3 separate regions of the Homo sapiens genome follow, and all the other regions are linked to region 3. The links come from fine-mapping of genetic effects on gene expression. A gene starts in region 3. Each other region holds a variant in brackets. All regions are shown on one strand. Distances are between the middles of the regions. Region 1 overlaps PCOLCE2 (procollagen C-endopeptidase enhancer 2). Region 2 overlaps PCOLCE2 (procollagen C-endopeptidase enhancer 2). Region 3 holds the start of PCOLCE2 (procollagen C-endopeptidase enhancer 2).

Region 1 (8,184 bases), 72 kb before region 3:
GTGAGATGAATTAATCAGATATATGAAGTCTTACTTTCAGCTTGTAAATTTTCTTCATAGGTTTCTATACTTAAAAGCTTCATCTCGTTGAAATCTAACCCAATCTTAGTATTAGAATGCTACAGGGACATCATTCAGGCAAAGATGTTTCATTTATATCTAATCAAATTTTAGCCTTTTAAACTCAATTGTTGATTTTGTTTTTAAAAGGGAGAAGCAAATGACAAAAAAATCAAAACCAGGATTTTTAATAATAACTTTAGAATACTTCAGAACAAATTTTTATGTATATCCCAGAGCTACTCACCCAGAACACCCGATTCCATGCATCCATGGGCAATCCCACACTTGTACATCCAGAGAGCCTTTGTCAAAAAGAGGCTATTCGTGGCCCAGTGCTGTGGCTCACGCCTATAATCCCAGCACTTTGGGAGGCCAAGGCAGATGGATCACCTGAGATCAGGAGTTCAAGATCAGCCTGAACAACATGGCAAAACCCCATCTCTACTAAAAATACAAAAATTAGCTTTTCTTAATTTGGTCAGAGTTTTGTCAATTATATTAGTCATTTTAAAGAACCAACATTTGGCTTTCCTTTTTTCTATTATTTAAGATGACAATTTTATTCAATTTCTGCTCTATGCTATTTTATCCTACCTTTTAAAAGTTTATGGTGTTTTCCTTTTACTAAGTTCCCAATTTGTATCATTCACAAATTAATAATTTCCATCCTTTCTTTTATAATGTAAACATGTAAGATTATAAATTTTAAAGTGTTATTTAAGCTGCATTTCACACATTTTAAAATGCAGTTTTTCTATTGTTCAGTTTTTAATATTTTGTTTTCCATTATGGTTTCCTTTTTATCATGAGTTGAAAGTACATTTCTTAATTTCCAATTTTTTTCTTGTTTTTTGTTGTTTACTTTTTGTTATTAATTTCTAGTCATTTACTGTTAGAGAAGGCTGTTCGATACCAGTTGTTTGAAATTTGTTGGAATTTGCTTCATGGTGCATGGCAAGTTCTGAAATTGTTCCATACGAGCTCAAAATAATGTGCCCTTGGTTCTGTTCTACATATGTGTGTTAGGTAAATCTAGCTAATTGTGCGGTTCAACACTTCTATATTTTTAATGTTTTCTCTTTTAAATCTGTCAATACTGAGAGAAACATGTTAAAACCTCCCCTTATGATGGTAAACTTGTCCATTTCTATTTATACTATATCAGATTTAGTTATATATTTTGAAGGATGTTATTAGCTGTGTGCAAATTTAGAATTGTTATATCTCCTTGTAACTCTCTTCATCTTGAGTAATGCCTTGAAGTATTTTTTTTCTGGTATTAATAAAACCATACCATTTTTATTTTGGTTAATGTTTGCCTGGTATACTGTATTTATCTTTTTCTATCCCTTTCCTCTCAACTTTTCCGTGTCCTCATGTTTTAGATGTCTCTTTCAAATAGCACATAGCTGTATTTCTTTTTCTAAGCCAGTCTGACCATTTTGACGTATAACTTTCAGGACTTAGTTTAGGTGTTTACTGAAATTATTGATATGTTTGTATTTTTACCTTATTTTGTTGTATTTTTCCTGGTTTCACTTTCTTTAATTTCTTCTTTTTTTTCCTCTGCTGGTTTTAAATGTTGATGCTCTATTTATATTATTTATGCTCTATTTATATTATTATTTTATTATATTACCCTAGAAAAATTAATGTAAATACTTAAATTATCAAAGTCCTAAGTTAATATTTTTATCTTTCTCTCTCTCAATACGAGGTCTTTAGAATACTTAGGTCAAATCTTTTTAAAAAACATTTGCTTGCTAATTGAATTTAATTGCAAATTTTTTGTTTCCATTTATATAAAAAATATAAATTTGTTTGCTTGAATCCATGAACTCAAGCAAAAGGTGTTTCTGATTAATATTACTTAACTCACGTTAGAACTTTCTCATTAGTGCCTGTTTAATTACAGGGCTTTTCTTTAAGGGAGTTTTTTTTGTCATTAGTTGATACCATTTAAATAGTCCAGAAGTAAATGGGAGCCTGGTAGCAGTAGTCTATTAATACATGAAAGAAAAGAAGGTAAATGTCTTCCAATTAAGGTTAACTTGGAAGTAAATTACAGAATTTAAGACTTGGGAACTTGGGAAAAATCTTAAATGTTCATTTACAGGAATTCAAAGGATGAAAATCAAGCTAGCAAGATGCTCTGAAACAGTGAGATTTATTTATAATTTTGAAATGTTTTGTGATATGTTAGTATGGTCACCTATTCATTCTTCATGTGTATTTGATTCCCCAAGTATAAATACTTAAAAACAAAAACAAAACCTTATCAACTATTCTTGAAAAATAAACAATTCCTAAAAGAGAAAATAGTATGGGATCCCAGAAGTTATGTAGTCTAACTCCCTCAAATTATAACTAAGGAAACTAAACCTCAGTCAAAATAAAGGTGTCTTAGTCCGTTCTGTGCTGCTATAACAGAATATCTGAGACTGGGTAATTCATAAAGAACAGATATTTATTTCTTACAGTTCTGGAGGCTGGGAAGTCCAAAGTCAAGGGCCCACATCTGGTGACGGCCTTCTCACAGCATCATCCCATGGCAGAAGGTGGAAACGCAAGAGAGCACATGAACACATCAACACATGTGCATGCCCAAAAGAGAAAGACAAGGATGGAGTGGGGACGCAGGGGGCCAAATTCATCCTTTTACCAAGGACCCATTCTCACGATAACTCACTCACTCCCATGATAATGGCATTAATCCATTCGTGAGGGCTCTGCCTCATAAAAGAGCCCACCTCTCAACACTGTTGCATTGAGGATTTACTTTCCAACACATAATTTGGAGGATACAGTCAAACCATAGAAAAATGATTGTTTAAAAAGGAAAGAAATTACAAAGTGGTTGTTATTCCAGAAAGAGCAGCTTCACGATTCATCTTATCTCTATGTTTTGAATAACTGAAGTAAAAGACAAACCAGTGCCACACACTTTTAACCGTGAATCCCCTAAGCAGTTGTAAAATACTGTGTCAGAGATGTCAATAGTATGAATAGTTTAGATTACTCTTCTCAGTTTTTACCCCACTGTGACTCAAGCCCCCACTCACCTGAAGAAGTCTTTCCGCTGGTCATGCAGAAGCTTGATACCCGCCAGCATGCTGCTTGTAATTCACCAATAGGAGATTCTATTCAGAAAGAAGAAATACTGAAATCTTTAGGATTCCCTCCTAAGTCCCGGAACATGTATTCTTAAAGGGAAGCAACTTGCTTTGAGAAGGCTGGAATCAATGAGGAGTCCACAGTTACATCCTGTGCTGGGCGCAGCTGGTCTGCGAAGTTCAGCTGGCTAAGAGAACTTTCTAAAAGCTGACACTGGCCAGGGAAGCCAGTCACCCACTGTCATCAGGGTCTTCTAGTTCATCTACTTCCTGCTGACGGCTCCTCAGTGGGAAAGTATAGGAGCAGTTTCTGACCTGCCTGTCAGCCCAATTTTGTCGTTTCCTTAGGCTCACCCAGCTGCCGTAACAGAGGGAACAGAGTTCCTTCTGAACTTCTATTTTGCCACCCTTTAAATGTCTGGTCATCCTAGGGCTGGGAATTATTGTTTTCATCTAAAAGAGTATTTTCCCTTATTTCCAAAACTTTGCTTCTACCGTGGAAGAGTTTGTGACCCACGTCTTTGTTCATCCCTAATGTTCTTTCAGCCTTCTTTGGATAGGGATGGTTATCCGCTCTCCCACAGCCCCTGGCTGGTAACCTCCTACAGGGCTGGTTGCTGCACTCATATAGTTGTGCCTTAAGCAGCTCTATGTGAATGAAGGTCCTTTTGCTGTTCTTCCACTAATGAGTGAAAATAGATTTCTCAAAGGCTCTTAGCTGATACAGCCTGATCCAGTTAACTGGGGATAAACAGGGCAGCAGTGTCAAGCTCACTTCTAATTTCAAGTTCTGTAAAATGACCAATTATATAGGCTAGTAAATACTAGCCTAAGTACTAATATTTAGTACTTCACTCTTCAAATCAGGATAAGAGGGCTTTCCTCTGGGGGTAGGGAAGGCTCTTCTAGTGGCAGTGAGGGCAAAGGGTTTGGAATTAGGACTCTTTAGCTTGATTGTTTTGTCTCTTAGGAGACATGTGCTCTGGCAAGTCACTAAACATACCTGAGCTTCCGTTTCAATTACAAAATGAAACAGTGTGGACTAGATCCCTGAGAGATGTTATTCTAGCACTAACATTCTCTGTTTCTGCAGAGAGAAGAATTATAGTCTATTGACATTACTGGATCCATTTAGTCCCTGAAATTCTTGGAATGCTCTTTTAGCAAAGTGTAAATTGATACAAAGGCAATCTTATGCATAAATCACACTATTCTTATTGCTAAAAGGGAATATTCCTTCTACAATGTCCCACTATCTATAAAAAGAAGTTTAGTGGTTGTTCTGTAATCCTTTAAAAATATTTTATTAAGCATTGATTTAGAAAACGCAAGACAAGATTGTAACACCTCAGGGCAAAGGCTTGAAGGTGAAACAAATAACACTATAAATATTGCACTTCTAAAATCTTTTTTTGACATCTTCACACAACTCAATTCTAAAATATCCTTTTACAGAGATGTATAAATAAACGCTTCCAAGCTGTCAACGCTTGACACTTTTAGCTTCCTATCACCGCACTAAGTCGGCAGGTTTCCAATCAGATAGCTGCTCCTCTGACAGCAGGCAAAGAACTTCCCTCAGCTATCTCGGAGGCCTCATACCTCCATCATGTGAAGAGTCAACCAGTCCCATCTTTCGGAAT[C/G]CTCTTTCAGAATATGTAATTTTATAAGTATTTTTTTTTCTACTGAGAGAACATAGATCTTTCAAAGGCAATGGCAGAATACAGCTTAAATGGACACAGTTCACTGTTAACATTGCTTATTTTTTAAGGCATCCAGGAGCTTCTGATTCTTGGTCTTGAACATCATGATAAAGCTGTTTGGCATGATTTTGCCTCGCCCATCTTCACCTACTTGGCCCATAATAATGTAATTTAGACCTAAAGAAAGAGAATACAGAAATTAATCTTTTTCTCTATGTATCATGTGTGAAACAACTTAGACTGTAAGTTACCTCTAGATAAATGTTCTCTTCTGCAAATGGTAAGATTATACATGTATTCCATCCACGATAAAATCTGGGTTTCTTGTTTTTGCTTTTTAGAGATGGGGGTCTTGCCATGTTCCCCAGGCTGGTCTTAAACTACTGAACTTAAGCGATTCTCCTGCCTCAGACTCCAAAGTAGCTGGGACTACAGGCACACGCCATTGTGCCTGGATGATAAAATCTGTTTTAAGACTCTCATCGGCAAAAAGCCAAATTCAACTAGTAAGGTATTTCAGCTACGCTAACACCAGGAAGCTGGACTGAGTGGTTAGATCAGCCATGTCCCGCTCTGCAGTGCTGTAGGTCTGTTGTGGTTTCAAATGCCTGCTATGAAGAATGCACCGCGTTAACGTGAAAGACTCTCCTTCCTCGAGGGGCCTCCAGGGCTCCATGATGGGCCATCCTCAGATGGCTTCTCAGTCCCATCATGTGTCTGGATTTTCCTGGCATTTGGCAACCAATGATCCACTCTCTTATGTTGCTGTTGTCTTGAACTTTAATCAACATCTCAAACATGTATGCTACGCAAGCTTCTTGAGGGCATAGATGGATCATATACTACTTGCATTTGTACAGTTTCTTGCAAAACATCGGTGTCAAGAGTACTTATATTGGTTATACTATGTTTTTATACATTGGTGTGACTGGCTAAGTTAGGCCTAGACTGGGGCCTGAGGTGTTGGGTAACTCTGAATATTTATATTACCTCAGAAATAAATCAGAAAAAAAGGTATGGGTTAATTCCTCCTTTAGTTCCCCTTTCCCCTGGTGTGTCATAGAGAAAATGTGTCCTTTTTCTCTTGCATTTTCCTGTGTGGGTGGACCTTGTCATCACAGTGGTCTGTGAGAGCCTGAGAGTCTGGGCAGGTAATGCTGCCTCAAGGCTGAAGTGCTAGCAGCATTATGAGACCTTATAGAATCTTGAGGTGCAGTATCTGCTGCTCCTGGCAGTTCTGGAAAGAAATGTTTCTCTTTTACAGAGCCTTTGTGATTCTCTCCAGAGACTCAACATGAGGCTACTAGCCTCCTGACTTTTCTGAACAATCTGAATTCACAGTAAAGCTTGCTTTATTTTTAAATTTTTTTCTTTTTTTAGACAGTCTTGCTCTGCCACCCAGGCTGGAGTGCAGCAGTGTGATCATGACTCACTGCAGACTCGACCTCTTAGGTTCAAGGCATCCTCTTGCTTCAGCCTCACGAGTAGCTGGGACCACAGGTGCGCACCACCACACCCGGCTAAATTTTTTTATTTTTAGTAGAGCAGAGGTCTCACTATGTTGCCCAGGCTGGTCTCGAACTCAGGCTGAAGCAATCCTCCCATCTCAGCCTCCTAAAGTGCTGGGACAGTAAAGCTTTCTTGAAGTGGATATTCTGTATCTTTCTCTCTCTTTCTCTCTCTCTCTCTCTGTGTGTATGTGTGGAAAGATGTTAGAGCTTATGTAGGGGAAAAATTGCAGAACTTGTGTGTGATATGATTCCATAAGTGTATATGCCCATGCTTTATGTGGATAGAAACTTTCTGGAAGGAACTTAAATTTTTTTTTTTTTTATAGAAATAGGGTCTCACTACATCACCCAGCCTGATCTCGAACTTCTGGGCTCAAGCAATCCTCCCACCTCGGCCTCCCAAAGTGCTGGGATTACAGGCATGAGCTACTGTGTCTGGCTGGAAGGAACTTTTTAGAGTACTTCTAAGGAAAGGAAAAGGGTTTCACTTTTAAACATACTCTTACCTACTTATTTCAACTTTTTAAAAACCATGAAACATATGTTACTTTTATAAGTTGTTAAATACATATTCTTAAAAAGTCATGTGCCTCTAGCTCTGGAGTAACTTTCCGTTTTTCGTAATTTCTTTCAATAAACTCACTCCCATCCATGGACTTAATAGTCCTATCTCTGCAAATGATTCCCAGATCTTGATTCTAGCCCGGATATACCTCCCTCTTCTGAACTTCGGGTCTGCATTTCCTGTTGGCTGCTGGATATTTTTCTTTAAACCTAGACAGTACTGGCATCTTAAGTGCAATAGTCTAAAATCTCTCCACCCTGCACTGCTCTGTGTGTCTGTTGCCTATTGACTCAACTTCAAACGCTTCTTTCACTTGTTCATCATGTCCACTACCCCTTCTTCTGCCACAAGTTACAAGGACTTGGATGAGAGCCCAATTCTGCCTGACTCCAAAGGCCTTCCTGCTCTGCAAGAAGTGGGCAACATATTAGCCCTGATTTTACTTCCCTAGACCAACCATGGCATGGAAAATCCATGGCTTGCTCAGAGACACCCAGTTTTCTCCCTACTCACCTCTTCTGAGGAGAGGGCACTGCTTGCAGACGACAGTCAGCCTGGCACTCATGTTCTTGCCCGCCTGCTGAATCGCCAAATTTCCCTCTTTGTAGATGTTGATGATCGAGACTGTGGCGTGCAAACTCCCATCGCGAGTGATGGTTGTGATAACAGTGCCGGCTAATACTGCAGAAGAAAACATTTTGAAGTGATGTGACAGTGAAGGCAAATGCAAGCAGAACTGAAAAACAAGTTTACATTCTTCTAAGTTTCAGATACGAAACATTTTAATGTTAAAGAAAAGGCCCTCATAGAGGTTTCACATTTGCTTCTGTACATTTGTCACCAAAATTCAGGTTGGAGCTGTGATGTTACGCTGGTTGTTGGGGATTGATAACTAGAAGAGAAGCCTAAATACTTGCCACACTGCGGTCCATTGCCAAGGTTGAAACTCTTTAAAACGTTTTATCCAACTTGTGGCTTGATTGTCACATAGGGGATAGTCTGGCTTATGAGGCTCTACCTGTGAATACTCAAAAAGATCTTGTATCTTTAGAGGCAGTACCACGCTAAAAGATTGCGCGATGGGGGTTTGGGCCACTAAGATGTGAGTCTTTGTGTCGGTGTGGGTGTGTAGCCACCTTTCTGTGTCTCTCCTCACCCTTCTCTGTAGCTGTCCTTTCTTCCTGAACTTTTGTTCATTCCCTGGGTCCTCACCTCTGTCTAATTATCAG
Region 2 (8,184 bases), 38 kb before region 3:
TATATCTCATATATCTGTGTGTGTGTATATATATATTTGTTGTTGTTTGAGACAGGGTCTCAACAACACCCAGGCTGCAGCACAGTGGCATGATCACGGTCACTGCAGCAGTGACCTCCCTGGGCTCAGGTGATTCTCCTACCTCAGCCTCCCAAGTAGCTGGGACAACAGGTGTGTGCCACCACACCCAGATAATTTTTGTATTTTTTGTAGAGATGGGGTTTCACCATTTTGCCCAGGCTGGTCTTGAATTTCTGAGCTCAAGAGATCCACCTGCCCTTGGTCCCCCAGTGTTGGGATTACAGGCATGAGCCACCATGCCTGGGCTCCACTTTTATTTTTTAAAAGCTATTGTATAAGTACTCAAATAAAAGCAAGCACACATAGAAAGGTATGGGAACCACTGGCCATGGCTATTTCTGGAGAATGGACTATGGAGTGGTGAAGGGGTGTGTTTGCATATTTGCATGTGTGCTTATGTATGTAAGCTCCACATTTTTACTCTATGAATTTCTATACTTGATTTACAAGAATGCATGTGGACTTAAATTAAAAGGCTGATTTTTTGTATTGGTCTCATCATGGTTTGATGGCATTCACTAGCTCTTTGAGAACCACTCTTAAGCTTTAAAGGAGTAAATAAACATCAAGTGCCAAGAACAGTGAACCAACATTACTGTTGTTATTGCCATTATGTGGAAACAGTACCTCTTTCGTTTGGTTCAGCAGCGGAGAACATGGCCATGAAGCCATTGCCAGCTGTGTTGGCATCAGAAATCATCTGCACCATCATCTTGTTGCCACTGGACACAAGGGCTCCAGGCCGGAAAGTGCCACAGAAGCGGCCAATGCGCTGGCCATTGGCATGGCCATTGTACACATCCACAAAGTCATAGCGGCACAGGTTGTCACTCTCGAGGTCTATGAATCGGAAATTGAGAACGACTACTTTTCCTTCGGGAACCTGCCAAGAAAAGCGCCAATTAGAAAACTGTCATGAAAACAATATCTGAGGCTTTGACATCTAGTCACTTACTTAAGTGTGTAAAGTATAATATCCAAGATAATGCTTTTTCCTCTCTCATATCTGAACTAACCCAAGGGAAGTTTTCTAGCATATTGCATTCCTAAAAAATTTAAGTACTTATTTTCTTTTGACAAATTCTGCAATTCTCCAGGATTCACAATCTTATTCCTTAAGAACTTACCTCAACAAAGCTGCAAAATATTAGGTCAGTATTATTAATAGATGAGTCATTGCTTAGAATGAATACCAGTCCTGATTGGACCTTAGCATATATTTGCATATTCTAATACCTAGAGATATTGCTTAGCAAAGAAACATTTAAAAATATCATTTCTTGGCCAGGCACAGTGGCTCACATCTGTAATCCCAGCACTTTGGGAGGCCGAGGTGGGCGGATCACAAGGTCAGGAGATCGAGACCATCCTGGCTAACACAGTGAAACCCCGTCTCTACTAAAAATACAAAAGATTAGCCGGGTGTGGTGGGGGGCGCCTGTAGTCCCAGCTACTCGGGAGGCTGAGGCAGGAGAATGGCGTGAACCCGGGAGGCGGAGCTTGCAGTGAGCCGAGATCGCGCCACTGCACTCCAGCCTGGGTGACAGAGCGAGACTCCACCTCAAAAAAAAAAAAATCATTTCTTACAAATAATACAGTAGGACGCATTCAATGCCTGTGTATAGAATGTTTCTATGAAGTTCAAAATAGAGGATTTATTTGGCAATTGTGTAGTTAATTTACAGATAATTCATTTTGGGTCCTGAAACATCCAGATGAACTACCGATACTGACTAAATGAACTGAGTAATTGCTGAATCATCTCTTCTGAATGTCACTAAGTTTTTTGCTCATTTGTTTTCCAGGTGAAGACTTTATATGTCAGGAAGCCTTGAGACACAATGCGCTAATGAAGAAAAAGATAAGCTTTCATTTTATCATAATATTTTATTCATCATAATTTCCCCATAAAATTCTTAATGATGGTTCCTTCCTTATTCCCTGAGTAGGTAGAAAAAATGGCTATAAAAGCATTTGGTAGGATTCTCAGGTTACCAAAGCCCCATTTCTTTCCCAGTTCATACCACCTTTTAATTTCTTCATTCAAGTTGTTCAGTCATAAAGTCTTGATCATAATTGTTTTACTCCTTTAATCAGATGAGGTCTCCACTGAATAGTGGAGAATTCCATTCTGTAAAAACTTACATATAACAAAACTCAGTGATTAAAAAAATCAAACACACACAATCAAAAGTGGTTGGTTTATATTCATCTTAATTAACTATTTCAGACTCAAGGGTCAATAGATGCTTTGACATTAATACGGCTTCCCCATGTTGGTAAGTACAGTGCCATACGTTTTATTTTCCTATGGTAAGATGAAGTGTTTTCAGTGCTATTTGCTTTTTGTGTCAAACACATCTACACTTCATCGTAGAAATTATAATGGCGTAGTTCCCAAAAGGGACATGTTTGGATTTGCCATCGTTGCATTCTAATTCCTAGAAGCTTGTCTCAGTGGTGTGAATATCAGAGTTCCAAAGAACTTAGAACAGCTTAAGAAGCTAATAACAGAAAGAACAATTTAAATTTTAAACATTATCACCAAGATGTCTGTTGTAAAACTTCCTGTCTTTTGCTTTGTTTTTTGTTTTGCACACAACCTCTATTTGTACAATAATCAGAAAGTTATCAAAATATGATGCCACATCTGTAATCTTAAATATAAGCAGGCTCTCTATGAATCACCGAAAAAGTCCTAGCCATGAAAAGAATCTCAAACTAATTTGTTTTTTTCCTGCATGAATAGTGACTATTTGTATAAATGTATAGAGGGTAATTCAAAGCTACGAAACTTGATGAAGTCACTCCCAGAGTGAATGTGGATAGAAAAAGGAAGAGGTCTAAGTATAGAGGCCTGGAACACTCCAATGTCATCAAGTCTGTGAAGAGGTCAAACCACAATAGAGACTGAGTCAACAAGTAGGAGGCAACCAAAGTGTGTGGCGTCTGGAAGCCAGGCGAAGAGAGTATGTCAAGGAGGAATGAATGGGCAACTGAGTTAAGTGCTGCTGCTGAGAAAGACCAGTGGATTTAGCAACACAGAAGTTTAGCAACCAGAAGTCACTGGTAATGCTGACAAAGCTGTTCTGGTGGCACCATGGGGAGAAAACTGGATAAAAGGATCATGAGAAAATGGGGTGAGAGGAAATGGTGACAATAAATATAAACAAGCTTTTCAAGGAGTTTTGCTGTGAAGATGAACAGAATAATATGGGGGTAAGGAAGGGGATATGGGGTCTAAGCAGAGTTTTTGCAATGGGTGTTTCCTAAGGCATGTTTGCATGCTGATGGGAAGGATTCTGTAGAGAGGGCAAAACTGATGAAGCAAGAGAGAGGGAGGATTGCTTAACAGATGTCCTTGAGCAGGCAAA[G/A]GGGGATCTGATCTACAGAAGGAACAGCTGGTGGAGTTGGCCTTAGTAGGAGCAGGGACAGTTTTGCCCAATGACAGAAGGGAAGACAGATGTAGGTAGGTCAGTAAATGAGGTGGTGAAAGCATATATAGAATTTTTTTTCTGGATTGCTTTTCTTAGTAAAATAGAAAACAAGGTCATCAGCAGCAAATGTGGAAGAGAGAGGCACTACTGGGAATCTGATAACAGAAGAGAAAGTGAGGAAATGGATTAATGAAATGCAGCAGGAGTACCAGGACTGCTGGGGTCCACTTGAAGTAAATGAATTAAAATTAAGACCTCTCTGCATGGTGGCGATATTTGTTTTTGTTTGTTCGTGGTCTTCTTCCCCAGCCACATTCAGCTCCGTGGGCAAAGGTACAGGGCAGGTGGAGAGTTGGATATAAGCAGTAGGGGAGAGTGGTGAGGTTTGCCAAGGGAGGATATGGCAGGAGAGAAGGACAAGAGAGTTGAAGACATAGGCAAGGGAGTGACCATGATGATGTGCTGTGGAATCCAAACTGGGTTAGGATGGAAATCAGGACGCTGTGGGGTGAGGACAGTAACAACCAAGACTGTGGTGGAGTAAGGACAAAATAACAGTGGAAGTGGGAGGCTGAGGAACTATGGAGGATAAGTTATTTGGCGGAGAAGAGGTTAAAGACCTGAGAAGATCACCCATATAGATATTGAAATTACAGTTGATTAGGACAAGGAAGAGTGTTGAAGACAGTGACAGTGAACCAGGAGTTAAAATTTGCAAGAAGCGAGGAAGACTGTCCAGGAGGCTTTTAGATTATTTCATCAAGGAGAGGAATAGGGAGGTATAATCATGTTTCATTGGCAGGTTCTTGGTTCTCTGACACTACGTAGACAATTCTGTTGACTCTCTCCTGTAGAGAGGTGTTGAAATTAACTACAGGACTTGGATGCTCATTCCCAATAAAATAAATCATTTGTTCCCAAAAGTTTTGTACCTGTTCCCATGGCAATGAAAATTTGAGAATGAGACACAAATATGATCAGCAATAGAAACTGGGTTACATCATTGCAATTTTGAACACATGCTGACCCGAACAACCCCGACAAAGCTTCTTTTGAAAGAAGGATGCAGAGGTGATCTGTACCAGTGTAAGTCTCCTATAACCAGAGACAAATGTCATCTTGCACTGAAGGCCAGAGAGAAATTCTATTGCAAATGAGAAGCATACTGCTGTGAGCCTTTTCAGTATGACACAACATCCGTTCTTCATTTTTTATATGAGTGATCAAGATTGTCTGATGCCCTCTGATGCAAGCTTTGATAAGAGCTCCTGATTGTCATTATAAAGGACTTTAGAGAGCATATTCTCCGAAGATGGCCTTTCCACTTGGAGAATCTAGTCTGTATCCTTGAATTTTCTTTGTTAAGAATAGAAAAAAAATAAAAAAATAAAAAATACAGAAAGATACACAGAATAATATAACACCTGGATACCAACCACGAAATTGACTTTTGTTAACATTTTGTTAATAGATTTTTAAAGTCTCCTTTAATGAAGTAAATAAAACATTTCAGATAAAAATGAGATTTCCTTTGTCTTCATCCCAGGCCCCATTTCCTCCTCCTTCCTCAGAAGCAACCACTGTTACAAATTTAGTGGGTTTCCTTCCATGCTGATCAAAATGTGTGTGTGTGTGTGTGTGTGTGTGTATTTATATATATTTATGTATGTGTGTATATACATATACACACATAAGTATTTATGTATATGTGTATATAATATATATTTTAATATATATTATATATATGTAACCATGCAAAATGCACAGTGACTTTTTGTGTTGTTTTAAAAATTAACAAAAATGGTGCCAGGCTCATGCTTGTAATCTTAATACTTTGGGAGGCCGAGGCAGGAGGATTGCTTGAGTCCAGGAGTTAAAGACCAGCCTGGGCAACATAGGGAGATCGTGTCTCTACAAAAAATTTTAAAAATTAGCTGGATGTGGTGGTGCATGCCTGTAGTCCCAGCTACTTAGGAGGCTGACGTGTGAGGATTACTTGAGCCTGGGACATCAAAGCTCCAATGAGCCATGATCACACTGTACTCTAGCCTGGAGAATAGAGAGAGACCCTGTTTAAAAAAAAAAAAAAAAGGGAAAATGGGATAATGTTTACATATCACTCCACAACCTGGGCATCCTTGAATTTTCTGGCTGAGGAAGAAGAGAAGAAGGAAAAATAAAAATACATAGGACCTTCACAAGCTATTCCTTCTACCTGGAACATGTTCCCACTTCTGCCCTTCTCTCACTCATGCTTAGGGTCTCAGTTTCAAGGTCACTCCCTCCTGGAGACATGCCTAAACACCCCCAAACCCGAAGGTGGGCTCTGTCCAATTAGCAGTGCTCCCCTCAGGTCTGTGAGCATGGGATGGCTCAGCCCACTCACTGCATGTTATAAAGCTCAACCTCGAGGGGGCAAGGATCCTTCCTGCCTTGTTCACTGTTGCATCCCCAGGATCTGGCATGGCCCCAAGTTAAAGCTTAACATCAAAAATATTTGTTAAATGAATAATCCATTAGGTACTCAATGAATCACCGGCCTCCTTGCACAAATCACAGACAATATACCTACTGCTGGCTCCACCTTTTTCATTCTAATATTTCCTACCTTGCCTGGCAGCAGAGCTCCAAAAGGCCACTCTCTTTTCTAAGCCATTCTTTGCAAAAAGCAGATGCATATCTTTTTGGAAACTTTATATTTCAAATCTCCTGTAAATGCTAACACTTAATGCAGAAACTCAAGGTGCTTTTTTGGTGGCAAATAGATGAAGCTACTGTTTTGTGAGATTATATTGATTTGGGGATTCATTATCTGCCTGCAGAAAAACAATTCGACGTTTGTGTTTTTTCCTATCAACAGCAAAGTCCCGTGTGGGCCAAAGCGTAGAGCTTCCACAGTGACCTCAACTCACCCCACAGCTCCTGGGATGTCCTCACTGTCACAAGCAAACGTGCCAAAGCTCTCGATGCCGGGGCTCCTGCCAGAGGACAGAGGAACTGCATTTTAAGCTGATGGTTTGCATTTTTAGGATACTATGAGCAAAATGCAAACAGGAGGCCAGCTTCTTCTGTGTGGAGGAGTGCATTTCTGCAGAAATGGGAATGCTCCTTTGTGTCTGCAGCTTTTCCTCCCTAAACACATCATTTACTACTTTGATCAAAAAGAACTGTTTTTGCAGCACGTGATTTTTTTTTAAGCCATCATTCTAATCTTCTACGATTTCCCTCTTCCACAAACAAACCTTTGGGAACGTGCATTCTAAAATGCAGACCACAGTTGATCTACGTAAAGCTCGAGGCACAGTTGATCTACGTAAAGCTCGAGGTGACCACTCAGTGTCACCTCTCCCATGGACCTCCAAAGGTAGTCCAGAAAGATCTATAGACAAATTATGTAAAAATATTTGGCAGTCTTTCTAGAGGGGGATAAATCAGAAGCTTACAAGATCTTATTCATCTATATTCTGGGTATATTTCAATACTACTCTTGTAAAGGTAAATCTTATACATGTTTAAAAAATAAAACATATTTTGATTGTAGAAATAACGAGATGTTTTGAACATTTTCTTTTGTTTTTGGGGATTTCACTAAAAAAACTTTACCCCTGGATGTCTAGAAGGGGCGTGGAAACTCCCATCCACCTTGGGCCCAGCCTGAAGACACCAGTGGAGATAACCCCCGAAAACCACCCAAAACTTTCCCACTGCACTTAGAATAAAATCTTCACCTTAATTATAGTTCACACACTTAGTGAACATCAGGTGCCAGGTATTTTTCTATGCACTATATACGTATCATTTCATTTAATCCCTTACAGCAACCCTATGAAGTTGATATTATTATTGGCCCAACTTTATAGTTTACAGATGAAGAAACTGAGGCACAGAGAGGTTAAGACACTGCATGATATATCCCCTTATCTCTCATCTTTCTCCTTCAAGCAACAACTTGGCTGTCATGCCACTTTTCTGTTCAAGGAGCCCTCCGAGCTGGTTCCCACCTAAGGGCCTTTGCACAGCCTGGTCCTCTGCCTGGCACAGCCTTCTCCCTGATATACACGGGTCTCACTCCACCTCATCATCTAGGTCAGCTCAAGAGTCACTGTTTCAGAGAAGCCTATCCTGAGCACCCCTGGTCACTTAGATCACACAGCCCTCTTATTTCTTCACAGATTATTTATCATCTGTCTCACTATCAGAATGTAAGCTACAGAGAACAGTTGGTCTGTGGGTCTACAGTTTGTCCAATGCTTTGGCTACTATGAGTACTCAGAAAATATTCATTGAATAAATGACTGCGATCCTTATAATCTTAAAATAATAGTGCAGGCCATGACTCCTATTACTAGCACATACTTTTATATAAAAATGTAAACTCACAAGTACAGGGCAAGTATTATTAAGATCCTTACGGGGAGGAAGAAATGGCTGACAGCGGTTATGATGACTTGCCTAAGGCCACCCAGAAAGACAATGGCAGAACTCAGGTCACCAGACTTCCACCTTGCTGTGTTTTTCCATGACCTGACTGTGGCAGAGGCTGAGGAGATGCTCCCAAACCTTGTTTCTTCTCAGGTCACACATGGAGTCGACATTTCCCAGCCTCTCTTGCAGTTAAGTTGGGGCCATGAGTCTGGGTCCTGGTCAATGGAATGTAGATGAAAGT
Region 3 (8,184 bases):
CTTGTCTACTCCACCATCTTCCCTCTCCTGGATACCACAACAGCTTCCTAATTGGTCTCTCTGCCTCTACTCTTAACTCCCTACAGTTCATCTTCCACGCAGACACCAGATAAGCTCATTCCTCTGCTTAAGATCTTCCAGTGACTCCTACTCAAAACAAAATTCAAACTCTCCACCGTGGCCTACAGAGTCCTGTTTACCTTCTTCGCTTCTCTTCCCACTGTCCCCTTGCTCATTCCATTCCAGCCACTCCAACCTCCTTAATTTGTTCTTCAGACAAATCAAGCTTCTTCCCACTCAGGCACTGAGTTGAAGCATTTTACACTATCTCATTTTGTCTTCACAGTAATCCTAAGGTTTAAAGGAGGTAGATCCTGGACACACAGTTTATGGCGGTGAAACTGGAATTTGAATCCAGGGAAGTGACTGCTGAGCTCACAGGCTTTCCCTTCACAGGACATCCAGATGGAGCATCCATTTAACTTCCCCACTCCCACACAGGAAATCATGCCTCTCCTGAGGCAAACCGTTCCTTTATCAAGGAAAGCTTTCACTGGACGTGCCCCCCAACCCCAGTCAAAGTGTAAAGTCACATCAACCTGTCCGCAATACTCAGAACACATGGCCAACCATGAATTTCTACTTGGGCACATGACGCCTCTGAGCCATTGATTTTCTAGGGTCGTTTAAAACTTATGGCCATTTAATTACATTTAAAACACAATCACGACATGAAAATCAAGCTGCTTTTATTTTTGTTTCAGAGACTTATTTGACATTTATGTTAATAGTATTTCAAACTTATTTTCTATGACTTCTTTCCTGGCCACATGTGCTATAATAACATAATGAAATCTGTACCAGTTTGTGACATGGTTGGCATTTTACAAGAGGCCGTCAAGGCATGTAAGAGCTGAGTTTTATATTATGGAAGGGGACCTCTCATATCTGCCTGCAAAATGACCTCAGTGGGAATACCTTATTGCAAAGTAGGTTTTACTTTTACATAAAGTTGGGCTTCCCGACTGTCTGATCAAGTCAATTTCTATAATTGTTTCAGGCCTCAGCTTCCCCATCTATAAAATAGGGATGATAATAGATACTTTCTCATACAGTTGTTTTGAGGATTCTGGGTGATTATACTTGCTAACTACTTGGCATGGTAAATGCCTGGCACACAGTAACTGCTAGTTTACACATTCAGTGGGGGCTACTTTTTAAAAAATCTAAGTCCTCCAGTGGCACAATCTGACTGAAAGAAGCTCTCAGTGAACCAACGTATTCAATTACTAAACAACTTCCCAACAACGAAAAAGTGAAGAAGGTAACAGTCAATGCTATGCTGACTGGAAAGATGACTCACTCTAGTTGACTCTAAATCAGTTAAAAAATATATGGCTGTCTCTAAATCCAGCTTATCTTGACTCAGCATAATCTATGTTATTACTAATCAGCATGGACTTTTTATTGGCCCTTGGCTGCTATTTAGATTCCCACCCCCCCATTCTCTATTCTTAGACTGCCTTTAGAGGTGGTTTCAACCCAGGAACATTAAGTGGGCTTTTTTTATTTTTTTTCTTTTTCCTTTCCTAATGAGCATAGAGTAGTCAAAGCACTATCTTTGATCTTCCATTTCCCACTGGGAATTTATGAAGGCACGAGCAACAAAAAACTTATGAAGGTCATTACAACAGGCCTTTGACTGAAAACAGCTTTAATTATGAATCTATAAAACTCAACTGAGTCACACTGGGCTTTCAGAAACACATCTGCTCTGAGAATTTATTCCTTCAAGCATTATCTTGTGCCCTTTGTAATCACTAATGCAGGACACGACTAGATCTATTATATTAATAAAAATCTTCCCAATAGTTGGGGTAAATCCAACATTTCACTATTTCAGGCATTTGCCTCTTACTCAAATCCTAACACCAGAGGAAAAAGGCAGCAGCCTCACACTGTTGCCAACACCCACTTCCAGGAGAATACCTTTTTAAAAAATGCTTACTGTGATTTTCCAAGTACATTTGCTATTTGGAGGGTACACTCCAGGAAAACCTTCACTGCCAATAAATCCAGACTCTCCAGTAAGAATGCCACCACATGTGAAAACAGGTCTGGGAACATAAAAGAAGAAAAGATAATGTAATTTGAAACATGGTCTAACAATCTGATGTTACCTTCAGAAAGGTGTAGCCTATTAATATAAATAAAAGTTAATGTTGATTAATCAATGCTTGCACCATATAAGGGATCTGAAAATTTGCTAGCTCCTAGAATATTTAAATTATAGCCTGACAAAGCATTCAGTCCAGCGCCATCTGTCTCCATCATAATAACACAAGATTATATATATGTATAATCAAGTCCTCGGCATTGTGGCAAAGTCTTGTAGGAAAATGGTAAATACATCAATTTAACTGGGGGAGTGGGAGAGAAGGTAAGAGCCAGGCTGAATGAGAAGCATGGTTTTAAAGAAAGACAGGCAAGCAATTGGTTAATATAAAAAAAGTTTGTCGTTCCCATATTTGGAGAGATGCCCAGTTCTCCTCCCCCTTTCTGAAAATCACTCGCCATTGGCAGAGCTTCCCATCGAAAGGGAGGCTGATGTTGATGGAGGCTGAAGAGGTGATGCCAAAGTTGGCCACCGGGCAGGTCCCACAGCCCAGCTCCTGGGGCCTTCCAGAGGTTGGCGAAGAGTTAACTTTCCGGAGCGGCTCCCTAGGCGCCGCGCCGCTAGGGTTGTTCCCTAGTTTACGTCTCTGGGCAAAGCCTCTCGGGGAAGGAAAAAAAACAGCGGTAAACCAAAATCCACATATTTGGGCCCCAGTGCTTCCCTCTGGCCCCATAGACACGAGGAGAGGGGAGACACAAGTCAGATTAAGCCCCGCCACGTGGTGGCCAAGCCAGCTGCAGGGCCATCCGGCAGGCCGGGCTGGGGACCCAGGAGGGAGCCCCGCGAGCAAGGATGGGTCCCGAAGTCCCGGGCTTAGCCTACCCGAGGGTGGCGGACGCCTGCACCGCGCGGGAGCGCAGGGTCGAGCGCTGGGTCACCCAGGCGCGCCGAAGCGGGTTGAGTAAAGCAGCAGGCGAGGCTGCAGGGGTGGAGGAAGGGAAAGGAGAGAAAGGGAGCCCGGGCAGGGGTCGCGTTACCTCTCTGGGGACTGCTGCCGCGAGAGCTGGGTGGCGGCAGCCAGCAGCAGGCAGAGTGGCGCCCAGGCGTTCGCGCCCCTCATGGCAGCGTAGACGCTCGGGGTTTGCACCCCACGGCGCGCGCGCCGGCACACACGCCCCTCCGCACCCACCGCGCTCACACCGCCGCTCACACTGGCAGCAGCGCTGGCTCACACCGGCGCTCGGCTGCCCGCGCGCTCCCTCTCACGCGCGCACCGCCGCGGGGCGGCCCAGGTAGCCGGGGGATACGCGGCCGGCAGGGCGGAGGCACTTTTAAAGGCGATTATGGTGCCGTCTGACTCGACGCTTAGTTTCCCCTGAGGAGCTGCTCTGGCAGCCACAGGCCACTGCTGAATATCCCGTTTGTTCTCCGGCGGCAGGAGGGGCGGCTCCGAGGCCAGAGCCGCCCCCTCTCGTGGGGCGGGCGAACGTCTCCTCCCGGCACCCCGGGACCGACGGGTCCTCTCTCGTCCAGCCCTCAGGGACCCCGGGGAGAAGAGGAACCCCTTGCGGAGTGGCACCCCAGCGGCCCGGGCCCCGACGCCCAGAGACGATTCTCAGGGAGGGCTTCTGGTTTTGCTTTGGGGAATGTTTTTCCCAGTTGCTTTTAAATAAAAAGTAATAGCGCTTGCTGGCTGCTGGAAAGCCTGGGGGTCCTTCTTTGTCTCCTTCAAAACCCAGATCCAAGGAAAGAAAGGGAAAAGGGATTTTATTGTATTTTAACTTCTGTGCTTATTCTCCTCTCTCTCTCTCTAGATACTTTTCTTTTTTTTACTGGTATGACAATGACAAGGAAGACAGTCTCTGTGCCGGGATTTAAACACGGGTTTTCAGGCGAGCGATTTCTGTGTGAACTGTCATTAAATGTCAGATAATGAAGACGGAACCAAATCAGCAAATCTCACCATCCCATGTCATGTTCTGAAAATGGTGTTTCTCTGCTTGCATCTCTCTGTTCTTAGACCTTTCCAACAGCATCTTTCTGTGGTATTAACGGGTTAAAATTTACGGAGAATTCGTTTTTCTTAGACGAACAATTCTAGCCTTGTGGAATCAATACTCTCTTTTACTTAATTACAGAAATATAATTTTAAACATTTATTTTGTTAAGAGCTTCCCAATAACCAGGGATTAATAAAAGAATGACAGGAACAGACTAGATTCATAGAGATTTTTAATAATCACCAGCTATGGGAGATACAGCTTAACTTTGATGCCTCACGTTGTTCCTTCTAAATTGTTTTCACCTTTCTAAGCAAGAAAATTAAGTATTAAAGTAGTTCTTATCGAGACTTTATTTCTAATAATGAGCTGTTAAGAATCTAAACACGGGTGGGCGCGATGGCCCACGCCTGTAATCCCAGCACTTTTGGAGGCCGAGGCGGGCGGATCACGAGGTCAGGAGTTCGAAACCAGTCTGGCCAAGATGGTGAAACCCCGCCTCGACTAAAAATACAAAAAATTAGCCAGGTGTTGCGGTGTGCGTCTGTAATCCCGGGTACTCGGGAAGCTGAGGCAGAAGTATCGCGTGAACCCGGGAGGCGGAGGTTGCAGTGAGCCGAGATCACGCCATTGCACTCCAGCCCCGGGCGACAGAGTGAGACTCCATCTCAAAAAAGAAAAAAAAAAAAAAAAGAACCTAAACACTCCTGGCAAGGAAGTAAGTAAAACTGGCTACAGGAAATATTCTGACTTTTCATAGTGAGTGCACCCTGAAGCCTATACTAGGAACCAGAATATACGGACAGGACTTAGATTATCTTACCATTTTTTTAAAAAGTGAAGGCAAAAACATCATAAAGTACAACTTTCAAAACTTCTCTACAGGCACCACACCCTTTATGACATTAAAAAAAAGGGTGACAGAATTTGGCAAACTGCTTTATATCCTGAAACACTCTCAACCCAATAAAAATGTCTTTAAAACAGGGAAGAGGAGAATAAATGGTTGTTGATTTTGCACGCATTTCAAGAATATGCTATCTAATAGCATAAGTGTTTTTAGATAATTGTTTATTTGAAAGTCATAGTTTTAAATTATAAAGGGAAATATTGCTCAATTCACTTTCTGGTAATGATTTGCAGTCCTCGTAAACCAGAAAATACTTCATTCAGGACTAAGCTAAGTTTTCAAAATTTAAAATAAATAACAAAGTATTAAATGTGCCTAAATAGGAAACTATTTGAACTAAAATACACAGCCATTTCTTAATTTATAGATTGATGACTGTGTTCATATGCTCACTAAAGAGTTAGGATTTTAACACCAATCATTCTGTTGTTGACACTCATAAGACATTGATTTTACCATGTGATTTTAGAATTTACTAAAACCCATATTATTGGCTCTTAAAAACACATATTTGACTTGGAACTACAGTTCTGACCAAAATTATAAACCTTAAATGTCCTGAGAAGTTGATGTGTTAAAATTGAGAGACTTTTATTAGTTTGTTCTCACGCCGCTATGAAGAAATACCCGAGACTGGGTAATTTATAAAGAAAAGAAGTTTAATTGACTCACAGTTTCACATGGCTGGGGAGTCCTCAGGAAACTTATAATCATGGCAGAAGGCACCTCCTCACAGGGTGATAGGAGAAGGGGAAAAGCCCCTTACAAAACCATCAGCTCTCATGAGCATTCACTCACCACCAGGAGAACAGCATGGGGGAAACCATTCCCACGATTCAATTACCTCCACCTGGTCCCACCCTTGACACCTGGGGATTATTACAATTCAAGGTGAGATTTGGGTGGAGACACAGCCAAACCATATCAAGACTCAAGTGCACTTTGAAGGTATATGTAAGGTCCATCTCTGTGAGACCAGTTTCTGGACTTGTGTGATAACAGAATTAGTATAATGGACAAGGAGCTACCCCCACAGGCAGTAGAAAAGTGGAGAGAGAAAAAGAACAAAAGCCCTGTGGGTAGATTCTTTAAAACAAAAAGTGGAGTGGTGGGTGAACTGATCCTTATTATCCAGCCTCTGCTGTTACCAGGTTGCACAGAGAATCAGCATCATGGGAATATGAAAATATTCACCAATGAACTGACCACTTATAAAATTAGGCCCCACTCAAACATTCCTTGCTACACAATGCTAGTATCTAGCTGGGCCCAATATGTCAACATTGTCAGCTAATCTCTGATTCACTCATCAACCTTGTAAACGTCTGAAAATGTCGTGTAAATCCATTGCACATTTATTCCATAGTGCGGTACTCATCTTGTAAAAAATCCGGAATGTTCATAAGTTAGTTCACACTGGGCACGGTGGCTCAGGCCTGTAATCCCAGCACTTTGGGAGGCAGAGGTGGGCAGGTCACTTGAGCCCAGGAGTTCAAGATCAACCTGGCCAACATGGTGAAACCTTGTCTCTACCAAAAATACAAACGTTAATTGGGCGTGGTGATGGGCGCCTGTAATCCCAGCTACTCGGGAGGCTGAGACACAAGAATCGCTTGAACCCAGGAGGCAGAGGTTGCAGCGAGCCGAGATCACGGCACTGCACTCCACCCTGGGCGACAGAGTGGGATTCCATCTAAAAAAAAAAAAAATTCAGTGTTTTTTGATGTCTGTAAACACACATTAGGAACAAACGTAGACCTTCCTCTTTCCCCTGCCCCACCTCAACACACCTCTCTGCCAAGAATAAGATATTAGGAATTGTACTGGTCAGGTTTCTTAGCTACAAACAACTGAGTCCACTCAGAATTTCAAGCAGAGCAGAAAGTTCACATTATCATCAAAAGAATCATAGAAACAGTCTCAAAGCTCATTTTCCTGGAATAAGAGCCAAAACCTCGCCTCAGAAATGGCCAGTGAGAAATCTACTGCTATTATTGCCACCAAGACTAAGCACTAAATGCAGGTACTTGAACTTAATGCAGTCACCGCTGTTGTGAGCACTTCAGATACATTTCTGCCCTGGGAAATTCAACCTTACCACACTCCTGCCCCAAAGGCCAGACAGCCTATTGCCTCCTACAGAATAAGAGAATCACAGAACCTCTTTGCTCACGGTGATCTCTTGATCAAACTCTCATGCAAGCCTATATGATTGGTAGTGTCCATGTCACATGACTTGCAGTGTCTCAGCCACAAGGGAGGCTGGGAATTCAGCACTATTAGAAGATGAGGTTACATAATATAGAAATATCTCCAAATATTAAAAGGCTACTAAAACAAAATGGGCAGGCACAAGTGTGATTAATGTCCATGATAAGGATCTACAAAGTTCAATTAGCCTGTCTCCTTGCATCCCTTTGCTGAGGAAAGCAGCCCCAAGGAGGTCTTGATATATGAAGTTGCAGAGTTAATAGGATGTGTTGAATGAAACCAGTTCCACTCACCTGTCCACCTTGGACTGGGTCAGGCATTTTGTTTGAGTCAAAGGCAAGCACATGAAAGCGGGCCAAGCTGAACACAAGGAAATCAGCTGCTGCTTCTTGGTGTGGAATGAAACTTTGTTTAGTGGAGTCTCTCCATAATGAATCGTCATTATCATCATCATCTCAGACTTTTACTGAGCATTTATTATACACCTGGAACTGTGCTAAGTGCTTTACAAACAATATTTTGTATAATTCTCTAAACAAACTTACGGGGTAAGAACAAGTATCATCATTTTACAGGTGAAGATTCTGAGATTTATAATCCAAAATTTTTTTTTCTTTTAAGACAGGATCTTGCTCTATCGCCCAGGCTGGAGTGCACTGGTGTGATCATGGCTCGCTGCAGCTGGGACCTCCTGGGCTCAAGCAATCCTCCCACCTCAGCCTCCTGAGTAGCTGGGACTACAGGCATGTGCCACCATACCAGACTAATTTTTTTTTTCTTGAGAGGAAGTCTCACTCTGTCACCCAGGCTGGAGTGCAATGGCACAATCTCAGCTCACTGCAACCTCCGCCTCCCAGGTTCAAATGATTCTCCTGCCTCAGCCTCCCGAGTAGCTGGGATTACAGGCACCTGCCACCACGCCCAGCTAATTTTTGAATTTTCAGTAG

Evidence for each region. PIP is the estimated chance that this variant, and not a neighbour inherited with it, causes the effect.
Region 1: its variant is fine-mapped to the expression of PCOLCE2 in left ventricle (GTEx, PIP 0.96).
Region 2: its variant is fine-mapped to the expression of PCOLCE2 in whole blood (TOPMed, PIP above 0.99). The same link has a PIP of 0.9 or more in monocytes.

The regions. Positions count from the first base shown.
Region 1 is chr3:142,813,410-142,821,593 of GRCh38, forward strand. PCOLCE2 (procollagen C-endopeptidase enhancer 2) reads right to left here. Exons shown (of 9, transcript NM_013363.4): 8 at 7,469-7,636; 9 at 4,465-5,056. The coding sequence ends at 4,926. Among named protein-coding and RNA genes, the nearest start is that of PCOLCE2, 72 kb to the right of the region's middle. The variant C/G (reference allele first, on the strand shown) is at 4,820.
Region 2 is chr3:142,847,509-142,855,692 of GRCh38, forward strand. PCOLCE2 (procollagen C-endopeptidase enhancer 2) reads right to left here. Exons shown (of 9, transcript NM_013363.4): 3 at 709-964. Among named protein-coding and RNA genes, the nearest start is that of PCOLCE2, 37 kb to the right of the region's middle. The variant G/A (reference allele first, on the strand shown) is at 3,456.
Region 3 is chr3:142,885,661-142,893,844 of GRCh38, forward strand. PCOLCE2 (procollagen C-endopeptidase enhancer 2) reads right to left here and starts at 3,423. Exons shown (of 9, transcript NM_013363.4): 1 at 3,154-3,423; 2 at 2,009-2,117. The coding sequence starts at 3,236. It overlaps LOC124909443 (a long non-coding RNA gene), which reads left to right and starts at 2,604. Exons shown (of 2, transcript XR_007096122.1): 1 at 2,604-2,799; 2 at 3,931-5,107. RefSeq lists a silencer at 3,366-3,415.